Regions from separate parts of the Homo sapiens genome. Here regions 1, 2, 4 and 5 are each linked to region 3. Evidence: fine-mapped expression QTL. A gene starts in region 3. Each other region holds a variant in brackets. All regions are shown on one strand. Distances are between the middles of the regions.

Evidence for each region. PIP is the estimated chance that this variant, and not a neighbour inherited with it, causes the effect.
Region 1: its variant is the best candidate, but not a certain one, in a credible set for the expression of VNN1 in whole blood (TOPMed, PIP 0.86).
Region 2: its variant is the best candidate, but not a certain one, in a credible set for the expression of VNN1 in whole blood (INTERVAL, PIP 0.68).
Region 4: its variant is the best candidate, but not a certain one, in a credible set for the expression of VNN1 in whole blood (INTERVAL, PIP 0.52).
Region 5: its variant is the best candidate, but not a certain one, in a credible set for the expression of VNN1 in whole blood (INTERVAL, PIP 0.74).

The regions. Positions count from the first base shown.
Region 1 is chr6:132,736,758-132,740,880 of GRCh38, forward strand. No RefSeq gene overlaps it. Among named protein-coding and RNA genes, the nearest start is that of VNN2, 19 kb to the right of the region's middle. The variant T/A (reference allele first, on the strand shown) is at 2,299.
Region 2 is chr6:132,675,256-132,679,378 of GRCh38, forward strand. It overlaps the pseudogene HLFP1. Among named protein-coding and RNA genes, the nearest start is that of TAAR1, 18 kb to the left of the region's middle. The variant A/G (reference allele first, on the strand shown) is at 1,873.
Region 3 is chr6:132,711,842-132,715,964 of GRCh38, forward strand. It overlaps VNN1 (vanin 1), which reads right to left and starts at 2,214. Exons shown (of 7, transcript NM_004666.3): 1 at 1,985-2,214. The coding sequence starts at 2,194.
Region 4 is chr6:132,577,085-132,581,207 of GRCh38, forward strand. No RefSeq gene overlaps it. Among named protein-coding and RNA genes, the nearest start is that of TAAR6, 8.8 kb to the left of the region's middle. The variant C/CA (reference allele first, on the strand shown) is at 2,550.
Region 5 is chr6:132,655,780-132,659,902 of GRCh38, forward strand. TAAR1 (trace amine associated receptor 1) reads right to left here and starts at 3,403. Exons shown (of 2, transcript NM_138327.4): 1 at 3,351-3,403. The variant CAT/C (reference allele first, on the strand shown) is at 1,604.

The sequences.
Region 1 (4,123 bases), 25 kb after region 3:
CTGACCCCATAAATAAGAATTCTTTCAGGCTCTCCATCAGCCTCTCTGATCCCACTCCTCCCACCCTAACCCTCAATACTGTAATCCATTAGAGTTCCCTTGACCATTGCTGTCATTAATTAAGATACTTCCCATGCATATATTGAATCAAAGCAGACAGTAAGAGCCTTCTTTCTCTTGGTTCCATTTTATATTTTGTGTTCTTAGCTAAAAGTACTCTTCTTATTGTAACATGATCACTGTTGCTCTGATCCTGGAATGATTCTGACCAAATCCTGCCTTTCGAGCTCAAATCCATTGCCTCTCCAGTCTTGTTGCTATTCCCTTCTCTAAACTCTTAATGCACTTATGGCCAGTAGCCACATTGTTGTTCACTGTCTTTCAGTCCCTTACTCTACCCTCTCCCCTGGCCCCAGGTTTTTTTCTACTTCATACCTTCAACTATCTTCTACAAAAGGATAATGACTGTGTCTCTATCTTTAGCTCAAACTTCCGTTCTGAACTTCAGGCCTATTTATCCAACTCAAAAGAACTCCTTTCCACAAGCTCCCACCAAGTATCAACCCACCTGCCAGCCATTTGTACCTGTAAATTCTGCCTCCCCCCATCCTTACTGTAAATGACTCCTCTTGACCCTACTTAAGTCTAGCCCCTATCTTTGAGCACTGGATCCCAAGGACATTGCTCTAGAAGTTCTTCTCTCTTACTTTGTTTATTTTTTTGTTTGTTTGTTTTTGAGACAGGGTCTCACTCTGCCACCCAGGCTGGAGTGTAGTGGTATAATCTTGGCTCACTGCAACCTCCACTTCCCAGGTTCAAAAGATCCTCCTGCCTCAGCCTCCCAAGTATCTGGGATTACAGGCATCTGCCCCCCACACCTGGCTAATTTTTGTATTTTTAGCAGAGATGGAGTTTTATCATGTTGGCCAGGGTGGTCTCAAACTCCTGGCCTCAAGTGATCTGCTCACCTCGGCCTCTCAAAGTGCTGGGATTATAGGCGTGAACCACCAATGCTCGGCCTTTTTTTTTTTTTTTTTGAGATGGAATCTTGCTCCATCACCCAGGCTGGAGTGCAGTGGCCCAATCTTGGCTCACTGCAACCTCCGTCTCCCAGGTTCAAGCAATTCTCCTCCCTCAGCCTCCCGAGTAGCTGGGCTTTCAGGCGCACATCACCATGCCTGGCTGATTTTTGTATTTTCAGTAGAAACAGGGTTTCACCATGTTAGCCAGTCTAGTGTAGAACTCCTGACCTCAAGTGATCCACCCACCTCGGCCTCCCAAAGTGCTGGGATTATAGGCATGAGCCACCGTGCCCAGCCCCATTACTGTTTATCATCAATTTTTCTTTCTCTATTGGATACAATAAAGAAAACACAAATATCCTATTATATATTCTACAACTATCCTGTAACATTTTCTATCTTAAAAAAAAAAGCCTTTTGATCTGACATCCCCTTCCAATTCCTGCTCCATTTCTCAGCTTTATTTTATAACAAAATTCCTTTCCACGATGGTATGTACTCCTTGCCTCAATTCCTGTCCTCCCAATGGACAGGATTTTACCCCCATGACTTCACTGCCTTGTCCAGTTCCCATTAATCTCCCTATTACTAAGTCTGATGGTCAATTCTCAATGTCATCTTACTCAATGTCTTGGTAGTACTTGACAAAGCTGCCATTATCCCATTCTTAATGTACTTTCTTCTTCACACCCTTTTAGTTTTCCTCTTTCTTTCTTCTTAGTTTTTGTATTTGTTTACTTTGTTTTGTTTCTTTGGACTTTTTCTTCTGGTTTCTACTCATCATCCCTGACTTGGCAACACTGGTGCACCCTGGAGCCCAACCTTTGGAAGTCTTCTGTTCCTATCTACACTCACTTCCTAGGTGATTACATCCATTTCATCTCTTTAAATACCATCTATATATTTAATATTAGTGACTCACAGATTTATATATCTACCTCAAACCTCTCTTGAGAACTCTAGACTCTTATATCTGGCAACAGTCTACTCAAAATCTCCACTTGACTGTATGAAGGCTTATCTGATCAACATGAACAAAACTGAGCTCCTGACCTTCTGCTCCTGATGCTCTTTCACCAGCAGTCTTTCAGATCTCAATTAACGGCTTCTCTCATCTCCCTTTTGTTCCGGCCAAAACCCTTGGAGTCACCCTTACTTCTTTCTGTCTCTCTCACTCTACACACGTTCAAGCAAGTGGTCTTTTACTACACCAACTGTGGTCCAAGCCGTCATTATCACTAGTCTGGATTATTCCCAAACCCTTGCACCTGGTTTT[T/A]GTACCACTACTTCTACTTTTGCACAACAACAATCAGAGCCATTCTATCAAAATATAAGACTAATCATATCATTCCTCTGCTCAAAACCTATCAATGGCCTGGGTGCAGTGACTCACACCTGTAATCCCAGCACTTTGGGAAGCCAAGGCGGTCAGATCACCTGAGGTCAGGAGTTTGAGACCAGCCTGACCAACATGGAGAAACCCCGTCTCTACTAAAAATACAAAATTGGCTGAGCACAGTGGCATGCACCTGTAATCCCAGCTACTCAGGAGGCTGAGGCAGGAGAATCACTTGAACCCGGGAGACAGAGGTTGCAGTGAGCCAAGATTGCACCATTGCACTCCAGCCTGGGCAACAAGAGTGAAACTCCATCTCAAAAAACAAACAAACAAATAAACAAACAAAAAAACCTATCAGTGGCATTCGATTTTACTCAGAGTAAAAGGCCAAGTTCTTACAATGCCTAAAAAAACCACTATAAGCTGTCACTTCTAACAATTCCTACTACTTTTCCCATGTTCACTCGGCTCCAGTTGCATTGACTTCTTTGCTGTTCCTCAAGCATGTCCCTGTACTGTCTCCACTACCCTGAGGGGACTGCTGCAACTGGCTCCTTCCTGGCCACTCTGCCTTTAGAACTTCTTTCTCCACTCCATCCTTCAAAAAGCCATCAAATTTATCTAGTTTTTAAACTGTTTAGTCCCTCATGGCTACTTGACTCTAAAACTCTTCAATGTGTCTTTCTCTCAGCTTCTGGATAAAGTCTAGACTTCATTTGTGTTTCAACACTGACTCTGGACTATCTCTCTAGTCTTATTTTTTACATCGTCTGTCCTTATCCTTCCTCCTTGCATCCTCTTCCTCCGTAATACATTAAACACTGCTTGAAGCATACTTCCATGTCTTTGCATGCATGACTAACTCTATTGAGAATGCCCTGATTATCTTATTCTGCTTGTCTGTGACATCCTTCTGGTCTTCCAAGGTAGAATTGATCCATTTCTGGTCCTTGTATTGATCATAGCACTAGCACGCCTCAGCCTCCAAAGTGCTGGGATTACACGCATGAGCCACCATGCCCAGCTAAGTTTTTTTTTTTTTTTATGTGATTGTTAGCTGCATAAATGTCTTCTTTCGAGAAGTGTCTGTTCATGCCCTTTGCCCACTTTTTAATGGGGTTGTTTGTTTTTTTTCTTGTGGAAAAGAAGTTCCTTGTAGATTCTGGATATTGGGCCTTTGTCAGGTGGATAGATTGCAAAATTTTTGTTTAAGTTCCTTGTAGATTCTTGGATATTGAATCTTTGTCAGAAGGATAGATTGCAAAAATTTTCTCCCTTTCTGTAGTTTGTCTGTTCACTCTGATGATAGTTTCATTTGCTGTGCAGAAGCTCTTCAGTTTAATTAGATTCCACTTGTCATTTTTTGCTTTTGTTGCAATTGCTTTTGGTGTTTTTGTCATGAAATCTTTGTTTGTGCCTATGTCCTGAATGATATTGTCTAGATTTTCTTCTAAGGTTTTTATAGTTTTGGGTTTTACATCTAAGTCGTTAATCCATCTTCAGTTAATTTTTGTATAAGGTGTAAGGAAGGGGTCCAGTTTCCATTTTCTGCCTGTGGCTAGCCAGTTTTCCCAGCACCATTTATTAAATAGGGAATACTTTCCCCATTGCTTGTTTTTGTCCAGTTTGTCAAAGATCAGATGGTAGTAGATGTGCAGTATTTTTAAAATTAATTTCTGAAATGCAAAATGAAACAGAACAGGGAAGCAAAGGTTTATAACATAACTGATCAAAGCTTTTAGCAGGGTTGTTCAATCCATAT
Region 2 (4,123 bases), 37 kb before region 3:
TGTACTCTTGTCTGCAAACCACCAAACACAGTGTCCTGTTGATCCTGCAATTATTGAAGTTTTAGTGGGGTACGAGCCAGAGCAGAGAAATCTTCCTCTCTCTAGCATCTGTGCCCCCAAAATGAATGACTCTAGTAAGCCCAAATTCTCTAAGTTTAAATTGAAACCACAGTCCAGGATTAGGAAAGCTCTAAAATCTTCATGCCTGGCTATGGATATTTGACAAATACAGTTGACTCTTGAATAATGTGGGTGTTAGGGGTGCCCATCTGCCATACGGTGAAAAATCCAAATGTAATTTTTGACTCCTCCCAGATTTAACTACGAATAGCCTACTGTTGACCAGAAGCCTTACCAATAACATAAGTGATTAACACATATTGTATATGTATTATGTATTATTTGCTGTATTCTTACAATAAAGTTTTAAAAATGGTATTAAGAAACCCATAGAAAATAGAAAATACAATTATCTGTCTGAAATAGGGGCACCTGCAGCTGTAGACCACAATCTATGGTCCATATCAGGCAATTCAACTTTTTCTTGTAATGTGACTTTTCTCTGCTTCTTGGAAGCATTTCCACCATCACTAGTGGCACTTCCTGTGGGTCCCATGGTGTTATTCAAGGTTTGTGGTATTGCACTAAACACAATGAAAAATACACAAGAACCCCAAAATCACTTTTTGCTGCAATCCCCAATTTGCTGAAGAGGAACTGCTCATGCAAAGATGATTAGTGCCACAGGGCATGAAGCAGAGTCTTGCAACACTTGAGTTCACCACAGTAGCAACAGGAAGGGGCAATAAAGTTATTACAGTAGTACAATATGTAATACTACAATAAATTTTATGTGGTAATGATTTAATACTGCATCTTTACATATGTTTACATTTGTCTTCATTGCAAATGGGATTATGTGTGGTCTGTAAGTGCATGTGTATTATGATAAATTTTGACTTTATATAATAGAGTTGCATATGTTTTATGGCAATCAATGATAAATTAGTTTCTACATATATTGTATGCATTCATTACTTATCTTTTTCTTAATTTTTTCAATATTTCTAAGCTATGTGGTTTGTCCGCAGGATTTTTCAAATTGTCACAAATCTCCAAAATATTTTTCAATATATTTATTGAAAAAATCTACATATAAGTGGATGTGTGCAGTTCCAACCTGCATTGCTCAAGTGTCAACTGTACTGAGCTATGAATAGAAAAAAACAGTGTAACAGACAGATACTCCTGAGACGCCTGGAGGCTGGAGGAGAATGAGATTATCACCTGGACATCACTGTTAAGCGGAAGTCAGCCCTCTACCACAAGCCAGTTGCTTTTCCCTGTAAGAGGGCATTTTTGAAGGCTGGCTTTTGAAGGAATATATGGTCTGTTTCCTGTGTCAATAGCACCACACCCAAACAAACTTTTTTTTTTTTTTTTTAGACGGAGGCTCCCTCCGCCTCCCGGGTTCACGCCATTCTCCTGCCTCAGCCTCTCGAGTAGATGGGACTACAGGCGCCCGCCACCACGCCCGGCTAATTTTTTTATATTTTTAGTAGAGACGGGGTTTCACCGTGTTAGCCAGGATGGTCTCGATTTCCTGACCTCGTGATCCGCCCGCCTCAGCCTCCCAAAGTGTTGGGATTACAGGCTTGAGCCACTGCGCCCGGCCTCTGTCATAGCACTTTTCTAGAAGTAGAAACACAGCTGACTCACGTTTTAGTCTGCAACTGTGTCCAAATGTGGGTCCCCAAATATGCTTTGGCCTGTGTGTGTGGCCATCAGTACATGTACATCTGTGTGTGCACGTTACTCTGCCTTGCCAATTTAAGAAACTTCATATTCAGTTTTTGAAAGTGCCAGGTTTTT[A/G]TTGTATTTTGGAGAACTCTCATTAGTTCTCCTCCCCTCCCCTTTTCTTTACTCCTTCCCTCTCATCATTGTTTCACGTTAGATCTTGTTACTTTTCCATGACCTTCTCCTTGGGTTCACTAAGAACTCTGGATAAATAGTAGATCTCTGCTGGGCACGGTGGCTCACTCCTGTAATCCCAACACTTTGGGAGGCCGAGGCACGCGGATCACAAGGTCAGGAGATCGAGACCATCCTGGCCAGCATGGTGAAACCCCGTCTCTACTAAAAATACAAAAAATTAGCCAGGTGTAGTGGCACATGCCTGTAGTCCCAGCTACTCGAGAGGCTGAGGCAGGAGTCTCACTTGAACCCAGGAGGTGGAGGTTGCAGTGAGCCAAGACCATGCCATTGCACTCCAGCCTCGGAGACAGAGCGAGACTCCGTCTCAAAAAAAAAAAAAAAAAAAAAAAAAAAGAAGAAAAAATAGATCTCAATTTTGAAGGGTACAAGCTTTTGTTTATGTTTAATCTACAAGTTGCCATGATAAAAATGGTATACACAGTAACAGCACTATAATGCAGCACTATTAATTTATAGGTGCTTTCCTCATATTTTAAGATTGGTTTATCATTATCATCATATTTGAAGTGCTACAGATATTTAGATTTACTAGGTCCCATATTTACATAGCATTTTTATCTACTAGGTTTCATTTAAATTACATGAACCCCAAATAGGTAAGAATATTATTAGAACATAGATTTGTTTTTGCATTTTCTGTACTTAAAACAATAATTCCATTGCACACTAGAGCATGCTGCCTAAGTATTATTGTAAGTGTAGGATACTCTCCTCATCTAAGAATTTTACTCTCTTTTCAAAAACCAAAATTATGGTGAAAGGTAGGGGTCCAGTTTCATTCTTCTGCATATGGCTAGCCAGTTATCCCAGCACCATTTACTGAATGGAGAGTCCTTTCCCTATTGCTTATTTTTGTCTACTTGGTAAAAAATCATATGGTTGTAGGTGTGTGTATTACACTGTTCTTGCATTACTATAAAGAAATGCCAGAGACTGGGTAATTTATATGAAAAGAGGTTTTATTGGCTCATGGTTCTGCAGACTGTGCAGGAAGCACAGTGCCAGCATCTGCTTCTGGGGAGGCCTCAGGAAGCTTTTACTCATGGCAGAAGACGAAGAAAGAGCAGGTGCTTCACATGGCAAAAGCAGGAGCGAGGGAGAGTAGGGGGACTGTCACACACTTTTAAATGACCACATCTTGTGAGAACTCATTATTGCCAAGCAGCACCAAGCTGTGAAAGCCGCATCCCCATGACCCAGATGCCTCCCACCAGACCCCCACCTCCAGCATCGGGTATTACAATTCAACATGAGATTTGGGTGGGGACAAATATACAAACTATATCAGTGTGAAGCTTTATTTCTGAGTTCTCTATTCTGTTCCATTGGTCTGTGTGTCTGTTTTTGTATCAGTACCATGATGTTTTGGTTACTGTGGACTTACTGTAGTTTGAAGTTGGATAATGTGATGCCGCTGCCTTTGTTTTTGTTTATTTGTTTGTTTGTTTTGTTTTTTGCTTATGATTGCTTTGGCTCTTGGGATTCTTTTCTGGTTCATATGAATTTTAAAATAATTTTTCTAATTCTGTGAAAAATGACTTTGGTAGTTTGGTAGGAATAGTGCTAATCTGTAGATTGTTTTGATAAGATGGATTAAAGATTTAAACATAAGACCTGGGAACTACAAGAATCTAGATGAAAATGTAGGAAATGCCATTCTAGGCATCAGCCTTAGGAAAGAATTTATGGCTAAGACCTCAAAAGCAATTGCGACAAAAAAGAAAACTGACAAGTGGAACCTAATTAAACTAATGAGCTTTTGCACAGCAAAAGAAACTATCAACAGAGTAAACAGACAACCTACAGAATGGGAAACAACACTTGCAAACTGCATCTGACCAAAGGTCTAATAAAGGCTTATATCCAGGATGTATAAGGAACTTGAATCAACAAGAAAAAAAAACTCCATTAAAACTGGGCAAAGGACATGAACAGATACTTCTCAAAAGAAGACATCCAAGCAGCCAAGAAAGATATGAATAAATGCTCAACATCACTCATTATCAGAGAAATGCAAATCAAAACCACAATGAGATACAATCTCATACCAGTCAGAATAGCTATTATTTAAAAAGTCAAAAATAACAGCTGCTGGTGGGGCTGTGGAGAAAAGGGAACACTGTACTGT
Region 3 (4,123 bases):
GTTAAAAATGCAACTTAATCCAAAGGGGGGCCTGCAAGAGGAGCTGAGGAGCTGAGTGGCTGAGTAACAACTATTTGGGCTTCCCCCACACCCCTTAAATCTTATTTTGTTTTCTATATTTTTATAATTTATTTTCTTTTCCAAAGCATTTTAATTTCCTTTTTTTTCAGTGCACTGTCACTTCTTTTTCTTTTTCTTTTCTTTTCTTTATTTCTAATTTTAGATTCAAAGGGTACAAATGCAGGTTTGTTGCATGGATATGTTACATAATGGTGAGGTTTGGGCTTCTAGTCAAGCATTTTTTTTTCTCTCTTTTTTTTTTTTTTCAGATGGAGTTTCGCTCTGCTGCCCAGGCTGGAGTGCAATGGCTAGATCTCGGCTTACCACAATCTCCACCTCCCGGGTTCAAGCGATTCTCCCGCCTCAGCCTCATAAGTAGCTAGGATCACAGGCATCTGCCACCACGCCTGGCTAATTTTTGTATTTTTAGTAGAGATGGGGTTTCTCCATATTGGTCAGGATGGTCTTGAACTCCCAACCTCAGGTGATCCGCCTGCTTCAGCCTCCCAAAGTGTTGGAATTACAGACATGAGCCACCGCACCTGGCTTAGTCAAGCATTTTAATTTTCTAATCCTGCCATTGTTGTTTCCTATGGCAGTCGTTAACTATAAACCTAGCTTATCCTGGAACCAAGCCTCTCCTTGAACTTTCGCTGATGACTGTGCCTGTGTCAAGACTGATTAATAACTTAAATATTCTGTTTATTTCCTCCTCTGCCCTAGCTTTCCCCTGCAAACATGATTCCTGCTTCTCAGAAAAAGAGGAGCCACAAACTGGTTACTTGAACTGTCCCATGCCTACAAGTACTGCCTGAGCTAACCTGGGCACCTTCCAATTAGAGAGTCACCTTAAAAAGCTCTGTGACCTTCAAGGAAATAGTTGGACTAAGGATGAAAAAGAACATCAGAACTCCTGATAACCTTTTAAATATTAGTATATATAAGAATATAGGGCAGTCACGGTAGCTCATGCCTGTAATCCCAGCACTTTGGGAGCCCAAGGCAGGTGGATCACCTGAGGTCAGGAGTTCAAGTACAGCGTGGGCAACATGGCAAAATCCCATCTCTACAAAAAATACAAAACTTAGCTGGGCACGGTGGCATGCATCTGTGGTCCCAGCTACTCTGGAGACTGTAGTGGGAGAATCACCTGAGCCCGGGAAGTCAAGGCTGCAGTGAGACGTGATCACACCACTATACTCCATCCTGGGTGACAGAGTGAGACCTTAACTCAACAACACAAAAGAATATATATTTATAGATATATGTAATACACATTTATCCATGACTTTTATCACACTTCATGTATTCCTGGTCTACACCTAATCGATCAATAGCTTTTAAAATAATATTTGTGTAAACCACAATTTATACTGTATGATTAACTTCAAACTGAAACCTTCACTAAACTTAAGGACTCACAATGCATTACATATACTTTTATCTTGTAATTAGAATGAAGTGTGAAGTATATAATGCATGCTGGCAAGGAATTGAAAACTTAAATTTGTTTTCAGATTATAAATTTATTCGAAAACCTGCAAAGCCTTAATAGCACATGAGTACATGAAGGCCACTAATACTCTGAAAATAGCACCTAGTCCCTGACCCATTTATCCTCCATCCTCCATCTGTACCAGAAAAGGGGAACAAAGATGTTGAATTTATGGCCAGTTCCTCAAAGGTCTGCTGCTTCTTGATAATGAGCAAATTGTTCTTTTCTTAACTTTGTTCTTACTTTTAGGGAAGTCCTTGCTCTAATTTTGAGAGGAAAGTAGAATTCTAACTGTAAAATAAAGGTTCTTGGCTACTCTGATACATATATCATCTAAAAGTGTAACTGACCCTGACAGTGGCCCTGTCTCCTAGGACCCCCTCCTTTCTCATAGAATCCAGTACACTGGAGAGATGGTAGAGATGGTACCTGATCTGCTGCTGATGTGATCGCTCCTTCCAAAATGTCCAGATTCCGATTCATTAATGCCAAAGCCTCCTCACGAGACACTGGTGTTAGGGTGGCATTGGGCAATATCGCTGCATGCTCATAAACAGCTGCAGTGAAAGTGTCCTGGCAGCTGGCTCTTGAGACATAGAAAAGCAAAATTGCCACGTAAGCTGGCAACTGAGTAGTCATGCTGAAGTCCAATGAGTGCTGAAAAACAGAGCATGTCCTGGTATTTATAGAAAGAAGACACGTGGTGTCCAGAACTTAGTACCTTAAACTACGGAAGTTAATTAAGAAAACGCTATGATTTCATAGCATTGTTACATAACAAAAGACCCTACCTTATTGCAGTAATTTGTGAAGATTAACTCAAGAACTCTATGTACATTAGTTCGCTAGGGCTGCCTAACAAAATACAATAAACTGGGTGGTGTAAAAAATAAAAAATTTATTGCTTTGCAGTTCTGGAGGGTGGGAGTCCCAGATGAAGGTGTCAGCAGAGTTGGTTCCTCCTGAGGGCGGTGAAGGAAAGATGTGTTCCAGGCCTCTCTCCTTGACCCATAGATGGCTGCCTTCTCCCTGTGTCTCTTCATATGCTATTCTCCCCATGTGTGTGCCTGTATCCAAGTTTTCCCTTTTTGTGAGGACACCACTCTAATCTTTAACACAGGGAAAGGGAAAATCCCAGCTCTAGCTTTTTTTGTCATCGTTGTTGTTTGTTTATTGTTGTTGTTGTTTGAGATGGAGTTTCACTCTTGTCACCCAGGCTAGAGTGCAGTGGCGAAATCTCGGCTCACTGCAACCTCCGCCTCTCGGGTTCATGTGATTCTCCTGCCTCAGCCTCCCAAGTAGCTGGGATTACAGGCGCCCGCCACCACGCCAGGCTAATTTTTTGTATTTTTAGTAGAGATAGGGTTTCGCCGTGTTGGGCAGGCTGGTCTCAAATTGCTGACCTCAGGTGATCCACCTGCTTTGTTTTTATGCCAAATAAGGGCAGAAGAAAAAAGCCAACTGAAGGTCATAAACCCAGGGGTACAGGCTCACTGAAAGACTGAGACTCAATCATAGGACCAATTCGATTTAGTGCCCACTGTACTCCAGTATAACTTCATCTTAACTAATTAGATCTGAAATGACCCCTTTTCCAAAAAAGTTACATTCTAAGATACTGACAGTTAGGACTTCAACATATAAATTTTTGGAATTCATATATTTTGGAATGTCAACACAAGACATTCAAATAATTTTAAAACTTTATTATTATTTTCATGTGAATATTTCAGCTCTACACTTTGATTTACTTTATTTTCCTCAAAATGGGGAAGCCAGGACAAAGAGGAATACAAAAGAGTTACTCATTTTCTATTGCTATATAACAAATTATCCCCAAATTCAGCAGCTTCAAAAAGCAAAAATACATCATCTCCCACTTTCTCTGGGTCAGGAATCCAGGGGCAGTTTAGCTGGTGCCTCTGGCCCAAGGTCTCTTTCACAAGGCTGCAGTCAAGCAGCTGCCAGGGCTAGCTATATCAAGGCTTGACTCCAGGAGGATTCACTTCCGAGCTCCAAGCTCCCTCATGTGGCTGACGGCAGGGATCAAGACCTCATTGGTTGTTGCCCAGAGACATGAGTTCCTAGTGATGCAAACCTCACCATAGGGCAGCCCGCATTATGGTATCTGGATTCCCTTAGAGCCAGACAGCAAGTGAACCCACTGGAGATGGAAGCCACGGATGCTTCGTAATGTAATTGGGGAAGCAACACCTCATCGCTTTTGTTGTATTCTATCCAATAAAGCATTAGGAACCATCTTTGAAGCTGCTTATCACAGAGGCAACAGAGGTGTATAAAGAATCAGAGCAAAAAAAAGAAAAAATGAGCTGGGGAGCGAGATCCAGAGAGAGGAGAGGGAAATTATATAAAATAGAAAAACTGTTCATAGATTTTGATATTGAGTAAGCTGGCAAATTTTGTTTCAGTTGTGCATTAAGTATAATATTTACAGAATTAGTGTTTATGTTTTTCCATTTTATTTTTAGATCTATTTGTCTTTGAATGGTATTTTTATAGTTCAATCTGCAAACAGGCATATCTAATTTTTTACTTTAGTAACTATAA
Region 4 (4,123 bases), 130 kb before region 3:
CAGTAGAAACATGTAAAGGCATATTTTTTAATTTTACATTTCAAGGTACATGTGCAGGATGTGCAGGTTTGTTACATAGGTAAACATGTGCCATGGTGGTTTGCTGCACCTATCAACCCATCACCTAGGTATTAAGCCCAGCATGCATTAGCTATTTTCCCTAATGCTCTCTGCCCCCACCCTACCCTCTTTCAACAGGCCCCAGTGTGTGATGCTCCCTTCCTTGTGTCCTTGTATTCTCATTGTTCAGCTCCTACTGAAGAATCAATATCATGAAAATGGCCATATTGCCCAAAGCAATTTATAGATTCAATGCTATTCCCATTAAACTACCATTGACATTCTTCACAGAATTAGAAAAAAAAGATTTCAAAATTCATATGGAACTTAAAAAAAGCTCGTATAGCCAGGCCAATCCTAAGCAAAAAGAACAAAACAAAAGAGGCACCAAGCGACCCAACTTCAAACTATACTACAAGGCTACAGTAACCAAAACAGCATGGTACTGGTACAAAACCGGCACATAGACCAATGGAACAGAATAGAGAACTCAGAAATGAAAACATACATCTAGAATCATCTGGTCTTCAACAAACTTGACAAAAAAACAAGATATTGGGAAAGTATTCCCCATTTAATAAATGGTGCTGGAAGAACTGGCTAGCCATATGCAAAAAAATTGAAACTGGGCCCCTTCCTTACATCCTATACAAGAATTAACTCAAGACAGATTAAAGACTTAAATGCAAGAACAATTAATATTTCACTAGTAGGGCTGCCCTCTACCAGATGGCTAATGGAGTCACGATGCAGAGCTATGAGATGGAGGGCAGGGGATGCTATGGCTAATTTTAACCACAGCAGCAAACACAGAAAAACCCACTAGGTCGTATAGACTCCTGACCAGCCCCAGCATCAGATCTTGGTCACTGTGGGCTATGGTGAATTCATAATTCAAAACCCAAAGCCTAATTTCTGTTGTGTTTGGAATAAAATTCTAACTCTGTGATTCTGATCTATGAGGCTTTGCATAGTCTTAGCCCCGCACAACTCTCTACCCACTACCTATTCTGCTCTCCCTTTACTTGTTATGCTCCAAATATATTTGTCCAATCCCAGCCCCTCGGCTACCCCCCACAGGATGCCTCAGGAGCTGTGCACTGGCTATCCCATCTGTTGTACTAGGTCGCTCAGGAGACTCGCACAGGGTTTTTCATCTGTTGGATCACTCAGTCCTCAGATCTTCACGGAGCTGGTTCCTTACACAGGTCTCAGCTTTAACATCGCTCCCTCAGAAAAATCAAGATCTCGGCTAATGTTGTTATCCATGTTTTATTCTTTTACTCACCTTGTTTTTATATCATTTCCTTCATGGTACATATCAGAATGTGTTACAATCTTATTCATCTGTTTATTTTCTTGTGTTTTAACTGTCTGTCTCTTAATGACATGTAAGCTGCAGGAGGTCAGATACTTGCTGAAGTATCACTATGAGTAAATCAGACAGTTTGTACTGGTGTTTTATTTCTTTGCTCCTATGTTGTTGTTTTACTTTGGTCAGTTGAGTAAATAAATGAGTGAATAAATAAAATAGAAATAGATTCCCCAGCATTGGGAGGATACATTAAATGTATTCTTTTTTTTTTTTTTAAAGTTCTGGGGTACATGTGCTGGATGTGCAGTTTTCTTACATAGGTAAATGTGTGCCATGGTGGTTTGCTGCACCTATCAACTCATTACCTAGTTATTAAGCCTGGAAAAATGCATTCTTTTTATAAGCTTTTTTGGGGAGGGGCAGGGTCTTGCTGTGACCTAGGCTGGGGTACAGTGGCATGATCATAGCTCAATGCAGTCTCAAACTCCTGGGCTCAGGTGACACTCCCATGTAGCTGGGGCTACAGGCGTGTGCGACCATGCCTGGCTAATTTTTAAAAAAAATTTATTTTTGTAGAAAAGGGATCTCATTTTGTTGCCCAGGTTGGTCTCAAACACGACTTCAAGCAATACTCCCATTTTGGCCTCCTGAAGTGCTGGGACTACAGATTTGAGCCACTGTGCCCAGCCTTAGATGCATTTTTAAAAGAATAAAATAGCTAGGTTGGCCTTATCTGAAGACTTGTTGAATGTGCCACTAAATCTCTTAACATCTAGTGTTCAGCAAGCCTTTTCATTCTTAGAACTCAATCAATAAAACTCAATCATAGAAAACTATTTCAAAGGACTCACTCTATGAAATAAAAAAAATCTTCCTAAAGAGTTTATGGGGGCTGGGCATGGTGGCTCACACCTGTAAAATCCCAGCATTTTGGGAGGCTAAGGCAGGTGGATCACTTGAGGCCAAGAGTTAGAGACCAGCCTGGCCAATAATAGTTAAACCCCATCTCTACTAAAAATGCAAAAAAATTAGCCTGGCATGGTGGTGCACACCTGTAATCCTAGCTACTTGGGAAGCTGAGGCACAAGAGTCGTTTAAACCCTGAAGGCTGAGGTTGCAGTGAGCTGCAATCACGCCACTGCACTCCAGCCTGGGTGACAAAGCAAGACTGTCT[C/CA]AAAAAAAAAAAAAAAAAGTTTATTGGAAAATATTTGATACCTGAGATCTGAACCATTCATGAGTTTCATGTTACTATTAAACATATCTTTGCTTGCTAATCATTTTCAGAGAAACCTCTAAGCTATTTTCCAGCTTGCACTCTTTCTGAAGCCTACACATTTCAAGCAGCATGGCCCCGAGCAGTGTTGGTAAGAGGCAGACTGGGATTTGGAGCCAGCTCTGTTAACTATAAAGGTCCTACTTTCACCTACTGTGTAATCCTCCTTCAAAGCAAGATTGAGGTGACGGAAATTGTGCTGGCCAAACATTAGGTTTCTGGGTTCTAGGTCCTGTCTCTGCCAATCATAGTTTGTGGGACTTCAGACAAGTCAGTTTATCTTATTGGACCTTAATGTGAAATAATGTAACTCCAATCCATGGCCACTAAAGTTCCTTCCAGTCCTAGAATTTCTAATACAAGCACATGTGAGTAACATAGCAGGGCTTTCTCTGTGTACCCACAGTGGAGTTTGGTGTGCTAAGGCTAGCTCTCAGAAGCCGATTTTGATGATAACCCAAGTTACTTGAGAGATGGTCAAGCCAACACTGGGACTGGAATTCACAGATTTGATCATGGGGTTAGATGGAAACCATCAAAAACAACAAAAAGAGAAAAAATTACCCCAAGCACTGTGAGGGGCAGCAGTATTGGAAAATGAGCTCCAAGCAGGCAAGGAATTCACCTGAAAGCATGAATGAAAGACAGGTCTGGAATGCACCAAATGACTAGGATCAGGAGTGTCTGTAAGTGTCAGAATGTAGCAGAGAGTGGCATTGTACAGAGTTCTACCCCGAGACTTTCATACACAAACTTTCAAATGCCATGCTACATTTACCATCAAAAGACCATCAGTTAGGAAGCAGATGATCTAAGTTTGCCTGACTGAGTTGCCACATATTGCAGGAGAGTCACCTGGAGTACAAAGTGGAGCAGTTTGAAAACTTGGGGAGAGAAAGAGAGTAGTGAGGACTGTGGTGGAACTCAGTGTCAGAGGCCAGGGTAACCAGCACCATGGTAGCAGCAGAACATGAACTACCTGGGACTCACAGAAAAGAGTAGTGCTGAGACCTGGGGAGTTTTCTTTCTCCTAATGTCTTTTTCCTGAAATAAAAGAACACACAGAAATAGGGCTTGGATTGAGTTGCGGAAGCAACAGGTCAATGAAATAAATTCTCCTTTCCCAACGCTTAACTACATGAGGACTTGAGTCAAACCCATCTAAGCTACTGATTGTTCCTCAGGATGGTTGATGTTATCTAGAAAGCTGCCCTTAACACACCCAAGCACTGAAATGTCTCCCTGCTTGAAGTTGTGCTTTCTTTAGTGTCATTTAGTAGCTGTGCTGTGCTTTCAGGCTAAAGCCACATTTTTTCAAGCTAGTATTGAATTAGCATGTGTAACTGGAAGTCAAGAGAATTCAGTCAATTTTTAAGTCAGGAGCATGTGGGAATGTGTGGCTTTGATAGTATGGCACTCAAAGTAATTGATAGTGAAGATATAAGGTCTTGGATTAAATAGAAGGGAAGAACACC
Region 5 (4,123 bases), 56 kb before region 3:
TGCTTTGGAGCACAGCAATGTTTGTCAGGGTGGAGAGGAGAGATCACGTTTGGACATGTTTTGAAGAAACAGCCAGCAGGAATTGTAGATAGCCTTGATTGTCGGTTTAGAGAAAGTCATGGAGGGAAGTAACAGGGCTTTGGCTTGAGCAGCTTGAAAAACAGAGGTACTAGTTAGAGAGATGGGGAAGATGGTGACTGCAGAGGGACAAGAAGCAGGGGAAATCGAACGCTTTGCCCTTGTGAGGTTGGAGCTGTGTGAGGAAGAGCAGGCCTTTAGTGCTCAGCTGTTTGGTTCAAGTCCTGGCTGGGCCATTCACTGGTCCTGTGACCTTGAACATACTACCCAGCCTCCAGAGGCTGCAGTTTCCTCATGTGAAAAACAACCAAACAAAAAGAAAACAAAAACAAAAAAAACTATTTTCTAGAGCTCTTATGAAGCTGGAATGAGTTAATTTTTATAAAATGCTTATAATAGCATCTTGTAGATAGTGTTCATCAACAACTAAGTAAACATCCAAGAGTAATGCAAGGGAAATCAAGGTGCTGTGTCAAGAATACACATATATTTAAATTTAAATAGATGCACTCTAATGGGTCACTATAGGCAGAAGGTAAGGAAAGGGAGAAACAGAGATAAATAGGGGGAGGGAGAGACAATAAGATGAAATATATATATAGAAGTAGGATGTCAGAAGGGAATGGCATGTGTTTTATTCACTGCTGAAGCTCCAAGGCCTGAAAATATCTACAACATGTACTGAGCACAAAAGGGAATAAAGAATTGAATGAATGAACAAATGAACTGAGGAGTTCATTTTCATTTCTGTGCCTCATAGAACCTTAAAAAAAATTCATGCACATATACTTAGCCTGGTTCTGAATTCTGAGTATCAAGGAAAAAGATTGTATAAGCACCCAAATAGAAAGAACTGGTTATTTTAAAAGGAAAGAAGTTCAGGCTAGCATAGGACATCTCCTCTGTCATTTTGGAAGCCAGAAGGCAATAGAATGAGGTTAGAAATTATGAGGGAAATAGGATGACAATTCAACAATCCTATATGCAGTCAAAAGGGTGATCATATAAGAGTAAAAGAATGACAGTAACAATGTATTTATGACCACCTGCTGAGAAATTCTAGGAAATACTCTAGCAATATAAAAATTAAATCAAAACAAAAATTTATAAATAGCAAGAGATGAAAAATAAAAGCAACAACAATGATTAATATATAAAGTAAGGTTTAGTTTAAATTGAAAGGGGTTATGTTAATATGACACAATACAATGCTTGTTAAAAGAACATTCAAAATGAAAAACAAATAAATTTCAAGGAAACACTTAACATTGGCCTGAAACTTAAATTCTAACTATCTTAATAACACCTAGTTGTTATCAGGGGTGCTGAGGGGCTGGCAAGTTAAACTTCTTGACTGGATGGAAAGATGCGTAGTTATAATTAAATTTTGGACAGTTGGTCTAGCAGCATTTTTTTAAAATTTAAAATGCTCACATTGTTTGAATCAGCTCCGTTCAGTGCAATTGTTTTTGTAATAGCAACGAAAGAAAAAAGTAAAATAATCTAAACTTTGATGTCAGACTTA[CAT/C]ATATATATATATATATCAGTAGACATATGATATGTATTTAACAAGATGTTAAATAAAATGATCTGGTTCTTTCTATATAGAGACAGAAAGTTGTCAATAGTATATTTTTAAGTAAAGAAAAAACATTTACAGGTTATTTAAAAATATACAATTATGTATTCTAAAATATCATATGTCAATATATTGTTAAGTAGAAAACATTTGCAGAGTATTTAAAAATATCATAAATAGGGATACACACTCACATGCATTTATGTAATTATGGGAAATAAGTATGGAATGGAATACTCCAATTCTCAATATTGTTTACTCAGAGATAGTGAGATTGAAACTCAAAAAACACACAAAAAGATTAACAACAAAAAGAAAATAACACAAAATTTTAGCAACGTTTTTACCTGGGTGGTGAATTATGGGTGAATTTTATTTACTTTTCCATCTCTATGACATATTCTAAGTTTCTTTCTATGGGACTGTTTCACTTTCATAACTAGAAATTTTTTTAATAAAAGTAAATGTATTGTTTATAAATTGAGTTTCATTTTAAAAAACTATTGGTGAATAATTATCAATAAATTTGTATTATTTGTTTCTTTGACTTGTATAATTCTTTGCATGATTTATTTATCTATTTTACCTTTGTACTAAAATTATACTTTTACTAAATTACTGAACTGAACTCATTTCCTGTTTTTGTTCTATTATAAAATGTAAAATAGACAATAATAATTTTACTCCAAAACTATACTTGTAGCTCTGTAATTCCAGTATTTTTAATAAACATACTAAAATATGTTTGAAAAATACTTATTTCTAAAGGGGGAAAGAGACCAGGGTGAGGGGAAACAGCATTTTTAAATGTTTAAGTCATGGTTCTTGAGATGAAACATTGCTGGAAGTGAACCATTTCTGTTTCAAAGAAACAGGAAATGGGACGAAATTCATTTGTTTGCTCCTACATCAACACAAACCAACAAATAAGAGTAAAACAGTCACCAGCAATATTATGATAAATGTACTATACATGAAAGTGTTTCTGCTATTTTGACATGCATAAAGTAATATGAATCAGATTTAGGTAATGTAACTAAAAGGTTCTTAAGTTAATTGATCTAATATATGGCAGGTATACACACACACTGAATTTAGTTTAAGTTGAAAGGGATTATGTTAATATGACACAATACATTTGAAAATGTACTGGGATTTTTCCTACCAAATATATTTGCACAAATAATATCTGTGCAAATAAGATTATGGTTTTGCAGTTTAGTTGTGTATATAGTAACAATAAGACATATTGTAATTGTAAAACCTAAAAAAATCTATAAGGACTCCTTACATGATGTTAAAACTAGCCAATGTACACAGCATAGAATTTCTTTCTTCATTAACAAGAAAAGGAGATTTTTTAAAAGTTTCAACTTTTCAAATGTCCTAGCTTTCCATAAATGAATTTTTAATAAAAGAGAAACAACACTTTTTAAAAGACATGTAAAGCAAGCTATTTAAAAATATATAACCATTCTTTTAGCTTCTCTTGCTAAAGGGGCTACTAAGCAACTAAATTACAGAAAACCCTTGTTAATCTTCGCACTAAATAATCCTAAATTTTAACAGATGGATAAGTACCAAGCCATTGATAAATCTCATTATCTTTAGCATTCTTCCTGTAAAATACTACTTTAGGCCTTTGGGTTAGTCTCTAGGATTTGGTTTGGCTGTTCAGCAAATTCAGACCCACCTGCTCAGGTAAGAGTGAACACAGTCAGCGGATGAGCAGACAGCAGGAACACTGCCTTTGGGACCAGTCTGCATCAATCTCCTGGATACCTGCTGCTGGCTAGAGCCCACTGCTGCTCTATGATAGGCCACAGTTCACATAGACAGAATGACGCAAATATTAAAATCCAAAACAAAAGCTGATAATAAATCTTTCTGAAACAAGCTAACAATATGTTATCAAGAAATATAACTGGGAGGAGCTTTTATTCTGAACCAGCATCAGGAAGCTAGCAGTGAGCAAGCTAAATAGAGAAGGTAAATATTACAACTACTTTAAAAATAATTCCAAGCGTGGGCCACCAGGAACCACAGCGATGCATTAACAGCACATAAATGAAAACACATGTCCATTAAAACTGACTTAATTGCTGATTGATTTGAAAGAAAAGTACTTCTCTATTACACACCTGTACAAAGAAAATAACTAGCATTTAAAAAACAACTTGCTTTCAAAAGAGATGACCTGTACCCAACAAATGAATATTTTTAAAAAATAGAATGTACTCAAACCCAATAACATATTATAGTTAGAAAATACTTTAAAGCAATGGCTTTCAAACTACTTTTGAACCACAACTATAGGAAGAAATACATTTTATATTCTTGTTCAGTACATATGTAGGTAGGCACCCATAACAAATGTAAAAGTTTTCATTAAAAAATACCCTTACTTTGTTTAAGTCAGTCTGATATTTCCTATTTTATTCTATTTCTTCTTTTAATTACTGGAAA